Regions from separate parts of the Homo sapiens genome. Here region 1 is linked to region 2. Evidence: fine-mapped expression QTL. Tissue or cell type: whole blood. Region 2 holds a variant in brackets; the other region holds the start of a gene. All regions are shown on one strand. Distances are between the middles of the regions.

Region 1 (4,000 bases), 41 kb after region 2:
TCCACACTGGTTGAACTAGTTTACAGTCCCACCAACAGTGTAAAAGTGTTCCCATTTCTCCACATCCTCTCCAGCACCTGTTGTTTCCTGACTTTTTAATGATTGCCATTCTAACTGGTGTGAGATGGTATCTCATTGTGGTTTTGATTTGCATTTCTCTGATGGCCAGTGATGGTGAGCATTGTTTCATGTGTTTTTTGGCTGCATAAATGTCTTGAGAAGTGTCTGTTCATGTCCTTCATCCACTTTTTGATGGGGTTGTTTGTTTTTTTGTTGTAAATTTGTTTGAGTTCATTGTAGGTTCTGGATATTAGCCCTTTGTCAGATGAGTAGGTCGCGAAAATTTTCTCCCATTTTGTAGGTTGCCTGTTCACTCTGATGGTAGTTTCTTTTGCTGTGCAGAAGCTCTTGAGTTTAATTAGATCCCATTTGTCAATTTTGGCTTTTGTTGCCATTGCTTTTGGTGTTTTATACATGAAGACCTTGCCCATGCCTATGTCCTGAATGGGTAATGCCTAGGTTTTCTTCTAGGGTTTTTATGGTTTCAGGTCTAACGTTTAAGTCTTTAATCCATCTTGAATTAATTTTTGTATAAGGTGTAAGGAAGGGATCCAGTTTCAGCTTTCTACATATGGCTAGCCAGTTTTCCCAGCACCATTTATTAAATAGGGAATCCTTTCCCTATTGCTTGTTTTTCTCAGGTTTGTCAAAGATCAGATAGTTGTAGATATGCGGCATTATTTCTGAGGGCTCTGTTCTGTTCCATTGATCTATATCTCTGTTTTGGTACCAGTACCATGCTGTTTTGGTTACTGTAGCCTTGTAGTATAGTTTGAAGTCAGGTAGCGTGATGCCTCCAGCTTGGTTCTTTTGGCTTAGGATTGACTTGGCCATGCGGGCTCTTTTTTGGTTCCATATGAACTTTCAAGTAGTTTTTTCCAATTCTGTGAAGAAAGTCATTGGTAGCTTGATGGGGATGGTATTGAATCTATAAGTTACCTTGGGCAGTATGGCCATATTCACGATATTGATTTTTCCTACCCATGAGCATGGAATATTCTTCCATTTGTTTGTATCCTCTTTTATTTCATTGAGCAGTGGTTTGTAGTTCTCCTTGAAGAGGTCCTTCATGTCCCTTGTAAGTTGGATTCCTAGGTATTTTATTCTCTTTGAAGCAATTGTGAATGGGAGTTCACTCATGATTTGGCTCTCTGTTTGTTTGTTATTGGTGTATAAGAATGCTTGTGATTTTTGTGCATTGATTTTGTATCCTGAGACTTTGCTGAAGTTGCTTATCAGCTTAAGGAGATTTTGGGCTGAGACCATGTCTCTGTTTGTTTGTTATTGGTGTATAAGAATGCTTGTGATTTTTGTGCATTGATTTTGTATCCTGAGACTTTGCTGAAGTTGCTTATCAGCTTAAGGAGATTTTGGGCTGAGACCATGGGGTTTTCTAGATATACAATTATGTAATTTGCAAATAGGGACAATTTGACTTCCTCTTTTCCTAATTGAATACCCTTTATTTCCTTCTCCTGCCTAATTGTCCTGGCCATTGGAGAGGAGGAGCATCTCCCAGACAGCTGCGTGCCTCAGAGAAGCCAGCCTCGCTAACCCCTCAAGCCCAGGGGATGAGACCCTGCTGAATCGCTGCTCTATTTTGGCTGGAGCCACAGCTCCCTCCACCGCGGGGCGGGGCTAAAATGTCCTCCCCCTTAAGGGAGCAGGCAGCTCCTCCCAGCCACCCACCCCACCAATTCCCATCCTCCCGCCCCCCTCCACCAACCCCTTCTTTCCACACTGCCCCCTGAGTTCAGGGAATTTCCCCAGCATCCCAAAGCTTGAGTTTCCTGCCAGTCGGGAGGGATGAATGCAGATAAAGGGAGTGCAGAAGGCACGAGGAAACCAAAGTGCTCTGTATCCTCCAGTCTCCGCGCCTCCACCCAGCTCAGGAACCCGCGAACCCTCTCTTGACCACTATGAGCCTCCCGTCCAGCCGCGCGGCCCGTGTCCCGGGTCCTTCGGGCTCCTTGTGCGCGCTGCTCGCGCTGCTGCTCCTGCTGACGCCGCCGGGGCCCCTCGCCAGCGGTGAGAGCTCCTGGCACTGGGGTGCATCCCAGCCTCTGCGGGGCCGCTGCGTTCCAGGGAACTCTCCCAGCAACCTGCCCTATAAAAATGTCTTTCTTCCCCAGCTGGTCCTGTCTCTGCTGTGCTGACAGAGCTGCGTTGCACTTGTTTACGCGTTACGCTGAGAGTAAACCCCAAAACGATTGGTAAACTGCAGGTGTTCCCCGCAGGCCCGCAGTGCTCCAAGGTGGAAGTGGTGTAAGTTCTCCTGTGTTGCTGTGTCCACTGTGACTTAGGCAAGTCCTCCAGCCTGGGTCGTCAACCTTTGTGGCTCATGGGTGCATCCTCTTTTTCTTTACTTCAGAGCCTCCCTGAAGAACGGGAAGCAAGTTTGTCTGGACCCGGAAGCCCCTTTTCTAAAGAAAGTCATCCAGAAAATTTTGGACAGGTATTTGTCCCTTTGATCTTTGTGGTGTTTTAATATCTTCTATGGAAAGCATATACTTCACAATGTCCTTATTCTCTCTGTAGGATTTAGACTATGCTTAGAATTATAAGGTTGTTAAGAAGAATAAGGAAACTTTTTTTCTGGAATGTTCTGGGTAAACCTTTATCACCAATCTTACATGCCTGAACAATTACACAGAGCTCATTACTGACATCTATTTTTTGTCTGCTCTTTGCTTTTATTGATTTTTTTCCCCCACCAAACGCTTTTGAAAACCAAATGTAGCATACAAGAGTGTGGGAATTGGTTATACTAATATAACTCTTTTCTCAACAGTGGAAACAAGAAAAACTGAGTAACAAAAAAGACCATGCATCATAAAATTGCCCAGTCTTCAGCGGAGCAGTTTTCTGGAGATCCCTGGACCCAGTAAGAATAAGAAGGAAGGGTTGGTTTTTTTCCATTTTCTACATGGATTCCCTACTTTGAAGAGTGTGGGGGAAAGCCTACGCTTCTCCCTGAAGTTTACAGCTCAGCTAATGAAGTACTAATATAGTATTTCCACTATTTACTGTTATTTTACCTGATAAGTTATTGAACCCTTTGGCAATTGACCATATTGTGAGCAAAGAATCACTGGTTATTAGTCTTTCAATGAATATTGAATTGAAGATAACTATTGTATTTCTATCATACATTCCTTAAAGTCTTACCGAAAAGGCTGTGGATTTCGTATGGAAATAATGTTTTATTAGTGTGCTGTTGAGGGAGGTATCCTGTTGTTCTTACTCACTCTTCTCATAAAATAGGAAATATTTTAGTTCTGTTTCTTGGGGAATATGTTACTCTTTACCCTAGGATGCTATTTAAGTTGTACTGTATTAGAACACTGGGTGTGTCATACCGTTATCTGTGCAGAATATATTTCCTTATTCAGAATTTCTAAAAATTTAAGTTCTGTAAGGGCTAATATATTCTCTTCCTATGGTTTTAGACGTTTGATGTCTTCTTAGTATGGCATAATGTCATGATTTACTCATTAAACTTTGATTTTGTATGCTATTTTTTCACTATAGGATGACTATAATTCTGGTCACTAAATATACACTTTAGATAGATGAAGAAGCCCAAAAACAGATAAATTCCTGATTGCTAATTTACATAGAAATGTATTCTCTTGGTTTTTTAAATAAAAGCAAAATTAACAATGATCTGTGCTCTGAAAGTTTTGAAAATATATTTGAACAATTTGAATATAAATTCATCATTTAGTCCTCAAAATATATATAGCATTGCTAAGATTTTCAGATATCTATTGTGGATCTTTTAAAGGTTTTGACCATTTTGTTATGAGGAATTATACATGTATCACATTCACTATATTAAAATTGCACTTTTATTTTTTCCTGTGTGTCATGTTGGTTTTTGGTACTTGTATTGTCATTTGGAGAAACAATAAAAGATTTCTAAACCACTGATGTTGTT
Region 2 (4,360 bases):
AGTGCAATCAAATTAGAACTCAGGATTAAGAAACTCACTCAACTACATGGAAACTAAACAACCTGCTCCTGAGTGACTATTGGGTAAATAACGAAATTAAGGCAGAAATAAAGAAGTTATTTGAAACCAATTAGAACAAAGACACAATGTACCAGACTCTCTGGGATACAGCTAAAGTAGTGTTAAGATGGAAATTTATAGCACTAAATGCCCACAAGAGAAAGCAGAAAAGATCTAAAATTGACACCCTAATATCACAAAAGAACTAATGAAGCAAGAGCAAACAAATTCAAAAGCTAGCAGAAGACAAGAAATAACTAAGATCAGAGCAGAACTGAAGGAGATAGAGACACAAAAAACCCTTCAAAAAATCAACGAATCCAAGAGCTGGTTTTTTGAAAAGATTAAAAAAATAGATAGATTGCTATCCAGACTAATAAAGAAGAAAATAGAGAAGAATCAAACAGACAATAAAAAATGATAAAGGGGATATCACCACTGATTCCACAGAAATACAAACTACCATCAGAGCTTACTATAAACACCTCTATGCAAATAGACTAGAAAATCTAGAAGAAATGGATAAATTCCTGGACAATTACACCCTCCGAAGACTAAACCAGGAAGAAGTCAAATCCCTGAATAGACCAATAACAAGTTCTGAAATTGAGGCAGTAATTAATAGCCTACCAACCAAAAAAAGCCCAGAACCAGAAAGATTCACAGCTGAATTCTTCCAAAAGTACAAAGAGGAGCTGGTACCATTCCTTCTGAAACATCCAAACAATAGAAATTGAAGGACTCCTCCCTAACTCATCTTATGAGGCCAGGATCATCCCGATACCAAAACTTGGCAGCGACACAATGACAACAAGAAAAGAAAATTTCAGGCCAACATTCTTGATGAACATTGATGCAAAAATCCTCAATAAAATCCTGGCAAAGTGAATCCAGCAGCACATTAAAAAACTTATCCACCATGATCAAGTCAGCTTCATTCCTGGGATGCAAGGCTGGTTCAACATACTCAAATCAATAAACATAATCCATCACATAAACAGAACCAATGACAAAAACCACATGATTATCTCAATAGATGCAGAAAAGGCCTTAGATAAAATTCTACACCACTACATGCTAAAATCTCTCAATAAACTAGGTATTGATGGAACATATCTCAAAATAATACGAGCTATAGATGACAAACCCACAGCTAATATAATTCTTAATGGGCAAAACCTGTAAGCATTCCCTTTGAAAACCACACAAGACAAGGATGCCCTCTCTTACCATTCCTATTCAACATAGTATTGGAAGTTCTGGCCAGGGCAATCAGGCAAGAGAAAGAAATAAATGGTATTCAAATAGGAAGAGAGGAAGTCAAATTGTCTCTGTTTGCAGATGACATGCTTGTACATTTAGAAAACCCCATCGTCTCTGCCCAAAATCTCCTTAATCTGATAAGCAACTTCAGCAAAGTATCAGGATACAAAATCAATGTGCAAAAATCACAGGCATTCCTACACACCAATAATAGAGAACAAAATCATGAGTGAAGGCCCATTCACAATTGCTAAAAAGAGAATAAAATATCTAAGTATACAACTTACAAGGGTTGTAAAAGACCTCTTCAAAAAGAATTACAAACCACTGCTCAAGGAAATAAGAGAGAAGACAAAAAAATGGAAAAACATTCCATGCTCATGGATGGGAAGAATCAATCTCATGAAAATGGCCATATTGCCCAAAGTAATTTATAGATTCAGTGCTATCCCCATCAAGCTGCCATTGACTTTCTGTACAGAATTAGAAAAAAAAAACTACTTTAAATTTCATATGGAACCAAAAATGCACCGGTATAGCCATGACAATCCTAAGCAAAAAGAACAAAGCTGGAGGCGTCACATTACCTGACTTCAAACTATATTACAAGGCTACAGTAACCAAAACAGCATGGTACTGGTACCAAAACATATATATAGACCAATAGAACAGAACAGAGGCCTCAGAAATAATG[C/T]CACACATCTACAACCATCTGATCTTTGACAAACCTGACAAAAACAAGAAATGGGGAAAGGATTCCCTATTTAATAAATGGTGTTGGGACAACAGGCTAGCCATAGGCAGAAAACTGAAACTGGACCCCTTCCTTACACCTTATACAAAAATTAATTCAAGATGGATTAAAGACTTAAATGCAAGACCTAAAACTATAAAAACCCTTGAAGAAAACCTAGGCAATACCATTCAGGACATAGGCGTGGGCAAAAACTTCATGACTAAAACAACAAAAGCAATGGCAACAAAAGCCAAAATTGACAAATGGGATCTAATTAAACTAAAGAGCTTCTGCACAGCAAAAAAAACTATCATCAGAGTGAATGGGCAACCTACAGTATGGGAGAAAAATTTTGCAATTTATCTATCTGATAAAGGGCTAATATCTAGAAGCTACAAAAACTTAAACAAACTTACAAGAAAAAAACAAACAGCCCATCAAAAAGTGAGTGAAGGATATGAACAGACACGTCTCAAAAGAAGACATTTATGCAGCCAACAAACATATGAAAAAAAAAGCTCATTATCAGTGGTCATTAGAGAAATACAAATTAAAACCACAATGAGATACCAACTCATGCCAGTTAGAATGGTGATTATTAAAAAGTCAGGAAACAACGAGTGCTGGATAGGATGTGGAGAAATAGGATTGCTTTTACAATGTTGGTGGAAGTGTAAATTAGTTCAACCATTGCAGAAGACAGTGTGGTGATTCCTCAAGGTCTAGAACCAGAAATACCATTTGACCCAGCAATTCCATTGCTGGGTATATAACCAAAGAATTATAAATCGTTCTACTATAAATACACACGCACCCATATGTTTATTGAAACACTATTCACAATAGCAAAGACTTGGAACCAACAAAAATGCCCATCAATTATAGACTGGATAGAGAAAATGTGGCACATATACACCATGGAATACTATTTAGCCATATAAAGGATGAGTTCATGTCCTTTGCAGGGACATAGACGAAGCTGGAAACCATAATTGTCAGCAAACTAACACAGGAACAGAATACCAAACACCGCATGCTCTCACTCATAAGGGGGAGTTGAACAACGAGAACAAATGGACACAGGGAGGAGAACATCACACACGAGGGCCTGCGAGGGGTTGGGGAGCTAGGGGAGGGCTAGCATTAGGAAAAATACCTAATGTGTATGACGGGTTGATGGGTGCAGCAAACCACCATGGCACGTATATACTTGTGTAACAAACCTGCACGTTCTGCACATGTATCTGAGAACTTAAAGTATAATTCAAAAAACTTGCATAACTTTTTTTTTTTTTTTTTTTTTTTTTGAGACGGAGTCTTGCTCTGTCGCCCAGGCTGGAGTGCAGTGGCGCGATCTTCGCTCACTGCAAGCTCCGCCTCCTGGGTTCAGGCCATTCTCCTACCTCAGCCTCCAGAGTAGCTGGGACTACAGGCGCCCGTCACCAGGCCCAGCTAATTTTTTGTATTTTTAGTAGAAACGGGGTTTCACTGTGTTAGCCAGGATGGTCTCGATCTCCTGACCTCGTGATCCGCCCGCCTCTGCCTCCCAAAGTGCTGGGATTATAGGCGTGAGCCACCGCTCCTGGCAAAACTTGCATAACTTTTATGCAAGTTTTAAAAATACAAAATTTTCTCCCTAAAGTTAAAAAAAAGATTTATCTGATATTTTTCTCATAATTAGGCTAGAATTTTTGGGTTTGGAGAAGAAACCCATAGAGATAAGAAGTCATATACTCGTTACATCACATCAAAGATATTATGTCATCTTTATCATGTCAATATGATTTATTACAATTGACGTTAACCTTGAACACCCACCCAGTGCTGTGGCTCATGGTTCCTGGAACTACAAGGTACTTCTGGCTTATGTAGTATGTTTTATGCTATAGTTTGAGAATCAACCATTTTCTCAAGGATCCCTGGTTCCTATTACTGGGGAGTGGTATTAGAAAACAAGTTCTGGATAGTAAATATATTCATTACTACTGGGGCACTGTTGCTTTTAGATATATTCAGCTGGCAATGCAAGGAAATATATGTGTGAATACTAACCAAAGTTTGTACATATATCTATAAATTATTCTGTATGTAACCACTCACTTGAACAGTGAGAAACCTAGCTCCCACTATCAGCTACCTTTTTACTTAATTGTTCAATTCTATATATAGTGGTTTTAGATTTGTTATCCTGTACCTCCATGGTAATCAACATTACCGACCAGAAAACAATCTTATGTACTGTTTCTTCTGCCTTTACACTATAAAATTCCACGAGTTAGTTTTTACAAATGCATAGTGTCC

What was found. PIP is the estimated chance that this variant, and not a neighbour inherited with it, causes the effect.
Region 1: CXCL6 starts here. The variant in region 2 is the best candidate, but not a certain one, in a credible set for the expression of CXCL6 in whole blood (INTERVAL, PIP 0.62).

The regions. Positions count from the first base shown.
Region 1 is chr4:73,834,772-73,838,771 of GRCh38, forward strand. It overlaps CXCL6 (C-X-C motif chemokine ligand 6), which reads left to right and starts at 1,907. Exons shown (of 4, transcript NM_002993.4): 1 at 1,907-2,088; 2 at 2,193-2,325; 3 at 2,432-2,515; 4 at 2,852-3,989. The coding sequence starts at 1,980. The coding sequence ends at 2,870. RefSeq lists a silencer at 1,881-2,175.
Region 2 is chr4:73,793,470-73,797,829 of GRCh38, forward strand. No RefSeq gene overlaps it. Among named protein-coding and RNA genes, the nearest start is that of CXCL6, 41 kb to the right of the region's middle. The variant C/T (reference allele first, on the strand shown) is at 2,018.